Regions from separate parts of the Homo sapiens genome. Here region 1 is linked to region 2. The links come from fine-mapping of genetic effects on gene expression. Tissue or cell type: nasal epithelium. Region 2 holds a variant in brackets; the other region holds the start of a gene. All regions are shown on one strand. Distances are between the middles of the regions.

Evidence for each region. PIP is the estimated chance that this variant, and not a neighbour inherited with it, causes the effect.
Region 1: MYCN starts here. The variant in region 2 is fine-mapped to the expression of MYCN in nasal epithelium (TOPMed, PIP 0.97).

The regions. Positions count from the first base shown.
Region 1 is chr2:15,937,280-15,945,418 of GRCh38, reverse strand. It overlaps MYCN (MYCN proto-oncogene, bHLH transcription factor), which reads right to left and starts at 4,869. Exons shown (of 3, transcript NM_005378.6): 1 at 4,676-4,869; 2 at 2,565-3,471. The coding sequence starts at 3,354. MYCNOS (MYCN opposite strand) reads left to right here and starts at 3,734. Exons shown (of 4, transcript NR_110230.2): 1 at 3,734-3,887; 2 at 4,322-4,445; 3 at 6,694-6,919. RefSeq lists enhancers at 4,741-5,271, 6,316-6,873.
Region 2 is chr2:15,886,800-15,894,989 of GRCh38, reverse strand. No RefSeq gene overlaps it. Among named protein-coding and RNA genes, the nearest start is that of MYCNUT, 30 kb to the left of the region's middle. RefSeq lists an enhancer at 4,011-4,632. The variant C/T (reference allele first, on the strand shown) is at 3,625.

The DNA of each region.
Region 1 (8,139 bases), 50 kb before region 2:
GTATGCTTATCTGTCTCTTCCGGCAGACCCTGGCAGACTGCTATTTTTATGGGTCCATCAACATAGATGTGGACAGTTTTGTATTTGTTTTAGATCTCTTTAAATTAAATATATCTGTAGGCCGGACGCGGTGACTCACACCTGTAATCCCAGCACTTTGGGAAGCGGAGGCGGGCAGATCACCTGAGATGAGGAGTTCAAGATCAGCCTGGCCAACATGGTGAAACCCTGTCTCTACTAAAAATACAAAACTTTGCTGGGTGTGGTGGCATGCTCCGGTAATCCCAGCTACTCGGGAGGCTGAGGCAGGAGAATGACTTGAACCCGGGAGGCGGAGGTTGCAGTGAGCCCAGATCATACCACTGCACTCCAGCCTGGGCAACAAGAGCAAAACTCCTTATCAAAAACAAAAACAAAACAACCCCCCATACATACATACATACATATACATATATGTATGTATATATATTTTTCTTCCCCATACCCCAACTGTGCTTTCAGCCTCCATTCAAGACTTTAGCAGGTGGTAGAAATAAATATAAAGAACTTGGCCTTTAGGGTCAGACAGAATCCTGGCTCCACCGCAGACTAGTTGCATGACCCTGGTCAAGTTACCCAGCCTTTCTAAGCCTCTGTTTCCTCAGCTATTAAATGGGGATGATACCACTTTGACAGATAACATGTAGACTTAGCATAGAGCTGAGCCTAGTAGACAGATGCTCAGTAAATGGTAGCTTTTATCATAATCACCAGTCTGCCCTGTGGACTTATTTACATTTCTAGCTCCACACTTAAAGAGTTGAGGCCTCTCATTTTAGGAGCCTCATTTAGCAGTTTACACATGGTTGTGTTTGATTTTAAGTCCTTAAACAAACTTGAGGAACAATTTAATTAACTGAAGAAAAAAAACAACTTTTCGTCCACAAACCTGAGTTTTATACAATAAACAGTTTTTCATTTAACAAAGATCAAATCTTAATGACAAAGCCATAATCCACAGTTGGTATAAACCCCCAAATGGGAGCAGCTCTCCTCAAAGCCACCAATAATAACAGCAACAACAGAAACGTGTAGCATCATGTGCGCATTCTTCCCCTCTCTCCTCATTGACTACCACGCTGGGGTAGAAAATTATTGTTTAAAATACAAGCATGAAAATCAAAACATATCTTCTGCTTGATCTGAAGGGGACCGGAAAGCTGAACAATTGTGGGATTTGTTCTAAAGCCGAAATGTGAGGCTGTTCCAGTCTGTGGGTCCCTTTAAGCCAATGTTTTGGTTTTCTGCCAAGAAGACAGCTGTTGGAAGGAAGTGCTTCCTCACCAAAAGCTGTCAAGGCACAGACATTAAAGGGACAGAGCCGTTTCAAACTGGAGGCTTATCACCAAGTTTCCTTCCAGGAGCCTCAAAGATCTCTCCTCAGCCCAGAAGTAAATTTAGGCTTGTTATCCACCTGCATTCTGAAAACACTGGTTTTCAAAGTCCAAGGGGGGTCCCAGCTCCCTGCTCCAAGGACAAGGCAATGCCACTCTTTGGGTTGAGTTCTGTTCATCCAGACCCCCAGGGAAAGGCTTGGTTTTAACTCTTCCCTTCAGCTTAAGACACAGACAAATGAACACAATAGAACTAATCAGTGAGTCCTCCCAGGATGTGAGCCTTCCTGGAGAGGCTGCTGAGTGCCTGCCCTCACCTTCAAGGGCACTGGGTTACAGATACAACTCACATCTCAAATTAGGCCTGGAATTCAGGCTGGAAGACAAAACTACAGCCAGTTTCCACTGCACACTGGAAAGAGGAGGCCCCCTGAGAATGTACACAACTGCTGTTGCACTTGCAGCCAGCTGCTGAATGGAGGGAGGGAGGGTGCCCCCACCACCCCCAGCCTTTCAGATCCCGGGCCCGCCTGCTGGCCTCGCATATCGCCGCCTGCTGGCCACGCACCAGGAGCAAATAGCCCACCACCCACCGAGGATGGGGGAAGGGAAAGGTACCGACATTTGAAAAAAAAAAAAAAAGAAAAAGAAAAAGAATAGAAAATCGGCTCTAGCCATCTGTGCAACCCTCCTATAAGTTCCTGCGCCTTAAACAGGGCTTTGCACAGCCCTTGAATCTTCTCGGGATGTCTTTCCCTCCCCTGACCTGGGCCAGAGAGTCCCTTTCACCCCTGCGCTAACAGGTTTCTGTCCAGGCAGTGCACCCAGCAACCCCCTAAACCCCCACCCGGTTTAGCCACCAACTTTCTCCAATTTTATTCCTCAGACTGCGCTGCAAAAGAGAGGTGGGGGACCGGGTGAGGGCCCGTGATGGCCTAGAGGAGGGCTCCCCAGGAGAGGGTGGAAGGAACTTTAGTGAAGGCGAGAATTGGAGAGCACCCCTTTTGCAACGGCATTCTCTCAGCCCCTTCTCTTTACCCCGAGGAGAGACTTGGGGGAAACAGGACCTCTCTGCCCCTAGCACTGCCTCCAAAATGCTCCCCAGGCCAAGACATACGAGCACTAACAAAGGGGACGCGACCCGGGGTCCAGTGCCCCAGGGAGGCAGCCGGACCCGAGTTCGGTCTTTACCTGAATCGCTCAGGGTGTCCTCTCCGGAGGTACTGAGGGCCTTGTGGTCGCCGCCGCTGGTCTGGCGGCCGCCTGGGCGCGGAGGGGCGACCCCCGGGGCCCCGGCTGGGGCGGCAATACCCGCCCCCGAGGCGACCGCAGGGCCCGCCGCCGGGGCACTGGCCGGGGCTGCGGGCACGGGCGCTGGCTCGCGCTTGTTCACGGGAAAGGGGAAGACCACGGCGGGATCCACGCACTCGGCGGCCGGGTGGGCGAGCTCGGCGGGCAGGGCGGCCCCGGCGCGGCCGGCTCCCGCAGCCCCGCCGTGCCCGCGACCCGCAGGGCTGGCGGCGCCGGCTCCCGGGGACTGGGCGGTGGAACCGGCGGTTGGCGGCCCGCGGCCGTGCTGCAGCTTCTCGCTCACGGCGCGCTCCAGCTTCTCGCGGGCGGAGAAGCCGCTCCACATGCAGTCCTGGAGGATGACCGGGTTGGGGGTGAGGCCACCCAGTCCCCCCAGGCCGAACGCGTCCTCCTCGGCCGGGCTGCCCCACAGCTCGTTCTCAAGCAGCATCTCCGTGACCCAGCTCGGGGGCTCGGAGCTGTGCTCCGCGAAGCCACGGCTGGGCGACAGCGGGGGCGTGGGCAGCAGCTCAAACTTCTTCCAGATGTCCTCCCCCGGGGGGGTCGAGTCGGGGCCGCCGAAGTAGAAGTCATCTTCGTCCGGGTAGAAGCAGGGCTGTAGCGAGTCAAACTCGAGGTCTGGGTTCTTGCAGATCATGCCCGGCATGGTGGACGTGGAGCAGCTCGGCATCGGCTCGCCTCCCGGCCGGCGACTGAGGGCTTCTTTCCGCCCCGTTCGTTTTAATACCGGGGGTGCTTCCTTCCCGTGGGGGGCGCGGAAGGCGGGGGCCGGCGCCGACCTCCAACACTGCAACCGACAGACACACCGGAGAGGGTGGGCAAACGGGGCAGACCGAGGGGATAGGCAATGGGCGCCCCCTCTAACCAGGTTCCCCAATCTTCCCTCCAAGCCCCCCACTCTGCCCACTGCTCCCGAAGGTGGAGGAAGTTGTGCCTCTCGCTCCCTCCCTCCCGCCCTCCTTTTGTGTACAAGCTGTCTACGACAGGGGGTGGGAGGGGGCATGCAGATGCAGGGGGTGGTGGCGAGGCTCCGCAACTTTGGAAACTGCCATTTCATTCACACAAGGCACTGCCTGGGGGAGGGGGCTGTTCCTGGCTGCAGAATTCTAGCTCTCACGAGCACGCAGACAACCGCACTCGCAGCGGTGTGGGGCCGGCTGCTCAGGGGAAGCCCCAGGCTCTCCGACCCAGCTACCGGGAATGGTATTTGGAGTACCTTCTACCCCCTTTGTAAAAATGCAACCTCAGGAGTGCAAATGATAGCAGGGGATTTAGAAAACTTTGCAAATAAAAAAAAGCCTTTCTCTAGACAGAGACCAACAACAGACACCCATATCCACAAATCCTTCCCCTCCCCAAATTTGAGCAAACGCCCCTCGGCATTCACCCGCTGCAGGGATACTCCTGCCAATAGCTTAATTGGAAGCTCTCTAAGCCCACCCCTGCTCTTCCAAACCCACGACAACGTCCTCTTCCAGGGAGGGAGAGGCTGAGCCCCTGTTCCCGGGAATGGCAGGGGCGCCCGCGCGAGGAGGGTCGCCGGGAGAGCCGCCTCTCCTCCAAGCTGGAGCAGCCGTGACCCAGATTGCGACCGCGGCGGCCTCGCCCTGCCTAATCCCCCCCTCTTCTTCCTCCAGGGGCACCCTTTGGAGAAGAACCCCAGCCTGGGGTGGGGACGCACCGGCTCTCCGACAGCTCAAACACAGACAGATCTTCTAGAGCCGAGGGAATTTCTTTTCGCAGAAGCCATTACTCCCCCCGGTAAGGGCTGCAAAAGGATTAGGGCGGGTCTCCTCTAGCCAGGATGCCTTCGGGGCTGGAACTGGCTTTTCTGGGAAAACCCAGAGATGGTTTTGTTTCGGAAGCAGAAACAGTCCCCCGGGCATATTAGGGCGCCCGGTGCGCACGTCGCAATCCCGTCCAGGGCTTGCCTTGCCCCGGCGCTCGTCGCTTCCCTGGGCGCCGGGCGGTTTGCAAGCCCTGCTCCTTACCTCCCGCCGACTGCAGGGGATCCGGAGGCGATTCTGCGCGGGTGTCTCCGGGTGGGCCGGGGGGGCGGGGGTGTCCTCGGATGGCTACAGTCTGTGCGCGCTTGCGCCTGGCTAGCGCTTGCTCGGCTCCAACACAGTTCCCAGGAGCCCCCCGCATCCACCCAGCGCGTCCAGACAGATGACTGTCACAGCCTGCGCTTTGAAGCTCGGGGGATATTATTAACTGAAAAATCTGACACACCCGGGGGGCGGGGAGAGAAGGGGGCTGTGGCGCAGACAAGGGGGAGGGAGAAAGGAGAGGAAAGCGGCTTTACCCCGCCCTCCTGATTTCCATAAAAATCAGGGGAGGCGCCAAGGCTTTCGCGCCAAAAGCCACTTGCTTTTCTTTGCAGAGAGAAGGCTGCAAAGCTGGGAAGCCCAGGGTGTGCTCCTCCCGCCCTTTTGGACCCCCGGGCTTGCACCGGCTGCACTCTGAGAACCAGCTGCGCGCGGAGCGGTGCAATGCAGCACCCACCCTGCGAGCCTGGCAATTGCTTGTCATTAAAAGAAAAAAAAATTACGGAGGGCTCCGGGGGTGTGTGTTGGGGAGGGGAGACCGATGCTTCTAACCCAGCCCCCGCTTTGACTGCGTGTTGTGCAGCTGAGCGCGAGGCCAACGTTGAGCAAGGCCTTGCAGGGAGGTTGCTCCTGTGTAATTACGAAAGAAGGCTAGTCCGAAGGTGCAAAATAGCAGGGAGAGGACGCGCCCCCTTAGGAACAAGACCTCTGGATGTTTCCAGTTTCAAATTGAAAGAAGAGGGGCGCCCCCCTTGTTTGAAAATAAATAAATAAATAAGTGCGAGCTACGAGGGTGGCGCCGCGGTGGTTTCTTCGGCCGAAGGCGACACCTCGCGGAGACTGAGCAGAAAGCGGAGCTGCCCGGCCTTGGCGCGGACCTGGAGTGCGGCCACTCCGCAGGTCTCCCGCCGCCCCCGCGGGACTGTCCACGCGTCCTCACCACTGCGGAGGAGGAGGCGGCCTGGCTCTGCTTCCTAGGGGGAATGGGCGTACGTTCCCTGCAGCCGTCCCCAGGGCTCCCAAGTTAACCTTTTCAAAGCCACCATTCTCCCCAGTTATGGGCAGGCGAATCTGATTTACCGAGATGGAAGTGCTGTCCACACCTCCTGAGACCCAGCCTCGGCTCAAACAGCTTGATTCCAAACTGTTGAAGGGAAAAAGGAAAGCTGCTGTCACTACTTCGTTTCTTTGTGCCTCAGTTTCCTCAATTGTGAAATGGAGTTCGTAGTGCCTCCTACCTGAGAGTTATGAAAGCTCTTATAAGTCCCCAGCCCATAATAGTTGTGTCAGCTATTATTATGATGATGACCACGACATGCTATTCTTCTGGGGAAAATAACACCCCTCTGTCCAGCAGCAGCATTGGCCCCTTCCCTTCCCGCCACCATCAAATCCTGGCTTTACTTCACTCTGGTCTAGCTTTTCTTACAGGTGTATTTGTTTGCAGGGGGTCAGACATTATTGCCCCTGCCCTCCAAACTCTCCAAAAACAACCCTGATCTCCTGGACAGCCCCCTTCACAACCAAATACACAGTGAGGTGGGATTTTGCCTTGAAAAACATTCCTTAGGCTTGTTTGGAGAGAGGGGAACCTGGCCCTGGGATTGGGGTGGGAAGGCTTCCCCGCCTCTCCCTACTTTTTTCTCCAAACTGGAAATGCCATTCTCCATCGCCCCCACCTCTTCACCTCACCATTGGATCTAGTTAAGGAGGAGGATGCTGAGGGTCAGGGGGCAACCCATAAAATGCTCACAGATTAGCATTTGTGAAGGCCTTTCCAGCCCTGACCCTGGACGCCTACAGAGCTCTAGGGAGAAAGATTCCCAGAGTTCTAGGAAGAGGCCCATGAATGCGGATGAGCAGCCCTTCCAAGCACCTTTATTATTGTTATTTCCCTCACAAATGTAAAAGCCTTCATCTTTGCAAAAGCCTTTTACAGCCCCACTTCTGCTTTTCCCTAGCCCCCTAATCGCCACCAAGCCCTCCTGCTGAATTCTCGCCTAGCATCCTGTCCTTTCCTGTCCAGCACTCACCTCCATTTGTAATGATCCATGCCTGGGAGTATTTGTTTAGTGCTCACTTCCGTGACACTGTGGAAGACAGGCTCAGTCTCCCTCACTAACCTGTGACCTGGGTCAGTTTTGCTCCAGAGGGAATCCTTACGGCACAGCAGTGTACCTGTATATAGTAAGTACTCATGGTATTATTCAAGACCAAGATCACTGAATGAGTCCTTCTAAGGTGGCCAGATCTTCTGTGGCAAGACTGTGAAAATAGGCCAGGATGGGTTCAGTTGCTCCGATTCAAAGTCCTACCTTTGTCCTTTCTCCTCAGATGAATGACCATCACTAGGTCATTCACCCTTTGTCGAGGGACAAGGTGTAGCAGAAAAGGGGGACAGAGGGACAGGAGACCTGGTTACTCTACATGCCTTTGAGCAAATCATTTATACTTCCTGGACCTCAATCTCTAATCTCCTGCTTTTAATGCAAGCCAGTAATTACTGACAAGTCTGAATCTGAAGGTTAACAGAATGATAAAATTCAACAAATATTTATTGGTTACCTTCATTTGTAAGTAGAAAGATAAAAGACTTTGTACATGGAGAAAACATGCTAATGCTGATTCTTAGTCTGCTTATAGAGAAGCCTGAAAATCCCTCTTAAAAATGTTGAAATACTTCAACTATGTGAACACACACAAAACAAATCTTCATATGGTTTCAAAGCCAAGGTTTTGTTCAGTACTGCCATGGTTTGAATGTGTCCTCCAAAAAAAAACACGTTGGAAGTTTAACCCCCAGTGCAACAGTGTTGGAGGGGAGGTCCCCAAATGCCAGTGGGACCTAGACCCCAGCCAGTGTCCAGGCTCTTGACACCATCAAGAGAATGAATTCAAAGACCAGTTGGAAAATAGTGAAAGTACGATTTATTGCAAAGGGAAAAGTACACACTCAAGAAAAGGGAATATGGGTGTACTCGAGAGACTCACACGAAAGGGGGTTTGGGGTTGCTACCTTTACGGGTTTCTTTAACCAAGAGGCAGAATATTCATGATCATTCCTAGAAAAAGAAGGAGATTTCTCAGAACTGTGACACCACCTATTTTTAAACCAAATATGGGTGTTCTCGGAAGTGTCATGATGCTAGTGGGGTGTGTGATTTAGTATGTTAATGAGCGTATAATGAGGTCCTAGGAGAAACCTAGGTCAAATCCAGTGCCATGCTGGGTTCAGTGGGTCTTAGCCAGCTTGGTCTACACTCTGTTTTTCACGGTCTTAGCCCATGGCCTCTGCAGCCATTTCAACAGTTTCCTTTTGCTAGTCATGTGAAATTGCTGCCCAAAATCTTCTATTATTCTGCAGCCACCTTATATTATTCCTGTCTCAGGACCTAATGTGAGGTGTT
Region 2 (8,190 bases):
CAAGTCCTAAACACTCTGTAAGAGTTATTCTTTTATCCCATCCTGCTGGGTCAGCCACTTTTCATGTGCTGGTCCTACACTTAGAATTAAAAAAAAAATTCAACTAAATTGTTTGTTTGTTTGTTTGTTTTAAATCACAGACGAATCCCTATCAGACAATAGACAAAAGAAATATGTAAAGCTTTGAAGCAGAGACAAACAAATCATTAGGGATCTTGCTTTGCAAGTTTTAAAATAAGATACATATAACTGTCCCCACTGAGTGACTTCAAAACAAAGCCTGCAGTATCAATCTTGATAACCTTCAGACGATTTTACCTTGCAGGTTTCAAACCAAACAGTCATAAAGAATTTACGAGAGGCAGTTCTGACTATGAGGTCTGAAGCCAACTGTTGCCGAAACAAAACGTGGTTGGGGAATTTGTAGGGTGAGCATATCAACCAAATGAGCACACTTCTGCAAATTCAAGAGGGTGAAATTGTCATGATACGAGGCAACAGGCAGAAATTGAAACTAAGAAGAACTGGGAATTATAATTGACGTATGAATTTTGCTTCTTTCTAAAGGCAGTTCTGTTTGAGAGGCTATGTGGTATGAAAGAGTGATGGAATGTGGGGATTGGATGTGCCCTTGGAAGCCGACCACCAATGCAGCCACCTCATTGCCCGATGGGGAAGCTGAGGTGCAGACTGGGGAGGGCCTAAGCTGAGGCCGCACTAAATTTGTGCCAGAGGCAGCTCCTAACTAATGATCCAAGGCTAAATGCCTTTCAATGATTGTTTTCTGCAAAAGAAACAAAATCCTTTCACCAAAGGCCATGCAGAGGCCACTAAGGCATTCAGACAAGAAGCAGCATGCAGAAGCAGAGAGAGACCTGTCAGAAAGCCTTGGCTTGCATCCCAGCTTTGATTCTGGCTTTTTGACTTGGGAGCAGTCACTTAACCACTCTGAACATCAGTTTCTTCATCTGTAAAGTTGGCAGATGAATTATTATTCAGATTATACATTGACTTTGCTTTTGCATCGTGGTAATACACAGATAACGTAAGATTTATCATTTTCTCTATTTCTAGGTGTACAGTTGAGTGACATTAAGTGCATTCACATCGTTATGCAACCATCACCACCATCCATCTCCAGAACTTTTTTATTTTCTCAAACAGAAACTCCATACCCATTTAAAAAACAACTTCCCATTCTCCCCTCTCCCAAGCCACTGGCAACCAACATTTTTGACTTTCTGTCTCTATGAATTTGCCTCCTCTAGGTACATCATATTAGTGGAATCATATAGTATTTGCCTTTGTGTGTGTGTGTGTGTAGCTTCTTTTACTTGTCATAATGTCTTCAAGGTTCATTCATGTTATAGCATGTGTCAGCATGTAATTAGCATGTAATTCCTTTTGAAAGGCTGAACAATATTCTATTGCATGTACGTACCATATTTTGTTTATCTATTCATCTGTTAATGGACATTTGAGTTACTTACAGCTTTTGGCTACTGTGAATAATGCTGCTATGCACATAGGTGTGTAAATATTTGTTTCAGTCCCTACTTTCCATTCTGTTGTGTGTATACACAAGAAGTAGAATTGCTAGACCATATTGTTGTGCATTGACTATTAAGAGATGCTTGCAGATAGGACCTTGGGCAGGTTATGAAAACTTTTTGAGTGTCCTTGGAATAATAACTCTGTTAGACCCTACCATAAACACCATTTACTATAAGTGATGATAAATAAGATACAGGTTTTTTTTTTTTATTTTTTATTTTTAATTTATGTTTTATTTTTTGAGACAAAGTCTGACTTTGTTGCCCAGGCTGGAGTGCAGTGACACAATCTTGGCTCACTGCAACCTCTGCCTCCTGGGTTCAAGCAATTCTTGTGCCTCAGCCTCCCCAGTAGCTGGGGTTACAGATGCACACCACCACGCCTGGCTAGCTTTTTGTATTTTTAGTAGAGACGGGGTTTTGCCTTGTTGCCCCAGGTGGTCGTGAACTCCTGAGCTCAAGCGATCCACCTGCCTCAGACTCCCCAAGTGCTAGGATTACAGGCATGAGCCACTGTGCCCGACAGCCAGATACAGATTTTTAAAAATGAGCTGGTGCTGCAGGGTTGTAAACAGGCTGGGGTAACCAAAAGCATTTGTCCTTTTGAGTAGGTCTCAGTAGGTCTCCTCTGCTTGTGCAGAATCCACTGTTCCAGAGATTTCACTTCCCTGCCCAAAGTGCCCCTCACTTCCCTCCGGCAGATTGTGCTTCTGGAAAGTTGTGTTTAGTAATATCTTAAACACTCATTATTCAAGGAACCCTGCGGTGGTTCCTTCTGTAAAAGCAAGGCTCTGTTGGTGAAGGAAATAACAAGCTCTAAATGACTCGTAATAAATTAGAGCTTTGATATAAAAAGCTCTGACCTACATGTAGGACTTCACAGTTGACAGAATTCTCTCACCTCTGCTTGTCTGTGTCATCTGGTATTTATCGGGGTGAAGCCGTGAAGGGATCCTTCTCTACAGAAGAGAACGGGTTGAGCATTGCAGTGGAAAATATCACTCTGGAGACCCACGGTCCTGCCTTCAAATTCCTTCCTTTCTACCAACTATGCAATCTTGGCTAAGTTACATCTCCTGTCTGGGCCTCGGCTTTCTTAGCAGGAGAATGGAGACAGTAGCTACCTCATGGGGCTGCTGGGAGGGGTGCCAAGAAGGCTGTTCTGCAAAATCAGGAGCAAGATGTTAATATGAAATCTCAGAAATCATATTCTACAAGTAACTGTTTTTGTGAGAGTGTCAGACCAGCAAAAATAAAGTTATTTTTCCTGCAGAAATGTTAGTAATAAAGGTCTTTTCATTACCATACATTTCTAGCTTTCAAACTACATCCCTAAAGATTACATTGAGCTCCCACTTGCAAGCTAGGGCCTGTTCTTAATAACAAGAAAGTAGAAAATTCTACAAGGAGCAAGATTTTTCAAAAGTGGAAATTGTGATCAGTATAATGTAAATTGTTCCCTAAGCAATGGCTGCCTATATAATCTACAAGATAAAAACTGGAAGTGGTTTTCTCTAGCGAGGGTGGCGGGGGGCTGTCCCTGCCCCACAGGAATCAGGATAACTGCCCTGCCATGTGTTCAGCACTTTAGAATTTTCACATTCTTCAGAATCCCCTAGCACGGTAGGTAGGCAGTGCTGGGACCATTGTCCGCATTTACAGCCTGCAAAACTGAGTTCCAAACGGGTAAAGCCACTTGGCTTAGGAGGCCCAGATGATAGGAGGATAAGAGGTGTCTTCTCTCTCCACCCCAGGCCTGCGGGTCCCAGGGCTAGGGGCGTCCCTTGGCATTCCTATCTCTCTGTCCAGGGCCACCCTGCAGGTCTCCAGTGGGGAACGCTTGCACCCTGCCCAGCTTCAGGCAATGACAGACTGAGGGCAGAGCGGGCCCTTTGGGGGGCTAAGACTGAGAGCTGGGGATGGGTGGTTCTTTCAGGGGGAGACCTAGTTTGTGAAACCATAAAGATCCTGAGTTCATAAATACATAATAACTGTCATTCTAGATGTTTCAGAGCCGATTGTGCAAGAACTGAGGAGGCAGCCACCTGCCTGCAGGCCAGAATGGAATTCC[C/T]CAGTGCAGGAAGCAGCCTGGAGAACAAAGCAACCTTATCTCTGGCGAGGCAACTGACGCTTCTTGGGCTCCTGCCCCCTCCTCTGCACATGGCCTGCTCCAGCCTCTGCGGTCCACCATCTGGGAGCTGCAGCCTGGATGGGGGTGGGGCTCCTCAATTAGCTGGTCCCCTAAACTGGAACATACTTGGAAACACCTAAACATTTGTTGAACGAAGGACAGATTCACCCTTTAAGTCTTGATGATTGCCTCTGTAAAATGGGTATAATAATAGGGCTTCATTTGGTTCAGCTGTGAGAGTTGAGTGAGAAAAATCAGCAAAGCAGCCTGGGAATGTGGAAAACATGCTGCCTGTCGGTGGCGATTCTCACTGTGACTGTCATTACAGTGGGAGCAGAGGGAACAGCTTTATCTTCCGGGTCTGCCCAAGAAGGCCTCCTGCCTTGGTGAGCCCGAGACTGGGTGTGGAAGGAAGCAAAGTACTGGATCTTCTGGAAGAGGAAACAACAGCATGGTAGACGGAGAGGACCGTGGGGGCAAAAGCAAGGAGCGGGAGCAGGATGGCGGGGGTCGGGCCAGGATGGCAGGGTAGGGGCAGAGTTGGCAGCACACTGGCTGCCAGGCCCCTTCCTTGGTCTTTATTCAGAGCCAGAGAGAACACCCCTTCATTGTGGCTTCTCCTGAGGCTCAGTTCACAACTCAGGAGAGAAAGTGTACACGCTGCACACGTCAGCTTCAAACTTCTTGCAGCCAAGAGGCCAGCTCGGATTGGAGTAGGCTTCTAATGCTTAATGTGCATATAAACCGCCTAGGCTCTTGTAAAAATGCAGATGCGGATAGCCTGGGGTGGGCCCGAGGCTCTAACAGGCTCTCAGGGACGCTCATGCTGCTGGTCCTGGTTCAGGGACCACCCTTTGAGTATTGGGGCTGCAGACTAGCAACACTCCTGGTGCCGTGGCTCCCGGGATCCACAGTTGATAGAAAACGAGTTATTGCTACATTGTTTGGCCAGGATGGCCTTCCTTCCCTATGTCTCTCTCTCTCTCTCTTGTGTGTGTGTACGTGTGTGTGTACGCATGCACGCTTTCTCTCCGTCTCCATATGCCGCTCTGCTCCTCTCTGGTTGATCTCTTTTTCTGTGATCCCGCCTCCATCCCTGTCTCTCTGGGTGTTTGTCTCTCTGGCTCACCTCCACGGCTGTCTCGCCATGGGTGTCCCCCTGACTGCAGGGTGCTCAGGCACTGAGTGCCATCTGCCTATCAGTCTGCCTGTCGGAAAACTCCTCTGGGGTCTAGCTGACGATGAGTGCTGTCACGTGGCAGGGAGGGAAGCAGAGTACTAACAACTGGTTGACAGCTGGTCACAGCTGGTGACAGCTTGGGCAGGCCTGGGCGTGGGAAAACACAATTCAGGCAGCAACAGCTGGGACGGGGACCACACTCTGAAGATGAGCCGACAGACTGCCACACAGTATGCGAGGGGCAGCACCCAAGCCCCACTCCTACCAGCCCGGCCACCATCCCTTGGAGTGAAGCAGATGCCAGGGATGGCTCTGAGGCTATCACACTCCTGACATCCATAGCCCCTGCAGGGAAAGGGCCATGGGCAGCTGCTCCCTAGCTCCTGCTCCCACAGAACGTGGATTGTATTTGGGGGGGTTCAGAAAGGGTAAGAAGGAGCGTCTGTGTGCATCCATGAGAACACTCCTGGGAAGCTGCGTGTGTGTGTATATGTGTGTGTGTGTGTGTGCCTGCAGATAGGGCGCTAAAGGAGAGGGGCATTCCATCAGAGAGCTGCCCCAGCTGGAGAGCTCGGGGGCCTGTGGCAGGGATGTCATAGATGAATACAGTGCCTGCAAACAGCACGCACCAAGAAATACAAACACGGGTTGTTATCATCATCTTTATTATTGCTGCTTTAAACACCAACATTTTCTCTTATCCATTTTGAATAGAAACAATTATAAAACGTGCTACAGATGTCCTACTTTCTTAATCCAGGGACACTGAGTATAAGTAACCCGAGAGCATGAACCGCTCCTGGAGAGGCAGGTACAGCCCTGTGTGGGGAACCCTCAGGCGTCTCACTGCAGAGAACCAGGGTTGCCAGAGCTTGGCACAAAGTAAGAGCAGGCAAGCTCTCAGTGAGGGGCCAGGGGCTTTTTAAGCGAGAAAGGATATGGCACTCGGAGGCCACAGCTTTGTTCAGAGGCTCCTTTTCTCTTGTTTAGCTACTTTTGGCTGTGTGTGTGTGTGTGTGTGTGTGTGTGTGTGTGTGTGTGTGTGTGTGATTGAGAGGGAGAAAGAGAGAGAGAATGTGCCACAGACTGGCCACTCCCCAGTAACTCAGATCCAATGCTGCCTGTCCTGGCAACCCAGCCTACCCTGTGCGTCTGTTTCACAGGTGAGGGCTGCCTTCTATGTGTCCTCTGTAGAGACCAAACTCAGCATTTCCTCATTCCCACCAAGGACCTGTGGGAACACAAATGTTGACAGGGGGCCCCGTCACCACTCTGCTTGGGCACAGCCAGTGCTGGAAAGTGAGACCAAGGAGCTATTTGGCAACTCACAAAGTGAAACAAATGTGCTGGAAAGCCTCCTATGGCTCCCCACTGCCTTTAGAGGAAAATTCAAGCAATTCTCCGAGGCCTACCAGGCCACAGCCCACCCCTCTCACATCTCTGGCTTCCAGCCTGCCTTGGCCTACCAGGCTCCCACACTTGCCTTTTTTCTTTTTTTTTTTTTTTTTTTGAGACAGAGTCTCACTCTGTCATCCAGCCTGGAGTGCAGTGGCGTATTCTGGGCTCACTGCAACTTCCACCTCCCAGGTTCAAGCGATTCTCCTGCCTCAGCCTCCTGAGTAGCTGGGATTACAGGTGCCCACCACCATGCCCAGCAAATTTTTTGTATTTTTTAAATAGAAACAGGGTTTCACCACGTTAGCCTGGCTGGTCTCAAACTCCTGACCTCAGGTGATCCACCCACCTCGGCCTCCCAAAATGCTGGGATTACGGGCGTGTTCCATTTCGCCCGGCCCACACTTGCCTTCTTTCATTTTCCCCAAACATCCCAAGTTCCTTCTGCTCACAGCCTTTGCGGTCATTGTCCCATCCACCTGGAGTGTTCTTCACGCCTGTCCCCACCCTGCCTGAGGCTCGCTCATCGTTCTGAGTCAGTGTCGCTCTCTCGAAGAGGCCTTTGCCAGCCACTCTACCCAAATAGGGCCCCTGTGCTCCTCCTGTAACAGTAAGCATCACAATTTGGATTCATTTTGTAATCTCCCCCCCACACCTCCACCTAGACTGTAAGCCCCCGGGGGCAGTCACCCCGTCTGGCTTGTTCTTATCTCGGTCCTAGCATTTTGCCCCCAATATTCAATAAATATTTGTTGACAGAATCAATGAATTACAAACATTGCGCATCTCAGAAGTCCAGGCCTCCCAGAGCATAGAGGCACTCTAACATGACAGAAAGGGAGGTGGATGTCCTTAAGGAAGGACTGGTCACGACCCAGACCCTGAGGGCTCCTGGGCTCAGCTTGCTAAGGAGGAAAAAAATAGTCTCTCTCCTCAAGAAGTCTGTGGCTCAGTGGGGGAGTGTTCCAGTTTCTATGACTGCATCAAATATTACCCCAAAACTTAGTGAGTATGTAAAGCAACCATTTGTGTGCTGATTTTGTGGACTGGAAATTCAGGCAGGTGACAGAGGTAAGAGACTCTGTTATCTGCATCCTCCTTAGCAAGCTGAGCAGAGAAGGGCTCTGCTCCATGATGTCTTAACTAGGAGGAAACTCAAGTACATGGCCTGGGATCATCTAAAGTTTGTTCTCTTACATGTCTGGTGGTTGATGCTGGCTGTTGGCTGGGGATCTCGGTTCCTCCCTATGGGATTCTGCGTGTGAGCTAGTTTGGGCTCCCTCACAGCATGGTGGCTGATTTCAAAGATAAGCATCCTAACACATCCTAGTGGACACTATATTGTCTTTTATGAACTAGCTTCAGAAATCATGAACCTAACATCCACCACACTCTATTCCACAGGCTGTCACAATGTCCCACCCATGTTCAAGGGGAGGGAAAATACATTCTCTCTTTTTTTTTTGAGGTGGAATTTTATTCTTATCGCCCAGGCTGGAGTGCAATGTCGCCATCTCAGCTCCCTGCAACCTCCACCTCCTGGGTTCAAGCAATTCTCCTGCCTCAGCCTCCCAAGTAGCTGGGATTACAGGCATGCGCTACCACGCCCGGCTCATTTTTGTATTTTTAGTACAGATGGGGTTTTACCACGTTGGCCAGGCTGGTCTCGAACTCCTGACCTCAGGCGATCCACCCTTCTCGGCCTCCCAAAGTGCTGCAATTACAGGCATGAGCCACCACGCCCGGCCAGATTCTAACTTTTGATAGGGGGTAGCAAGTTTCTGGACAACCATGTGAGACTGAAAATATTGCTTTGGCCATTTTTGCAAAATACAGTTGGCCACAAAGATGTAATAAATAATAACATAGGATGAAAAGGGACACTAATACCCTCTAAGATTTCCCATCATGGGGTGGGCTTGGTAAAAGTA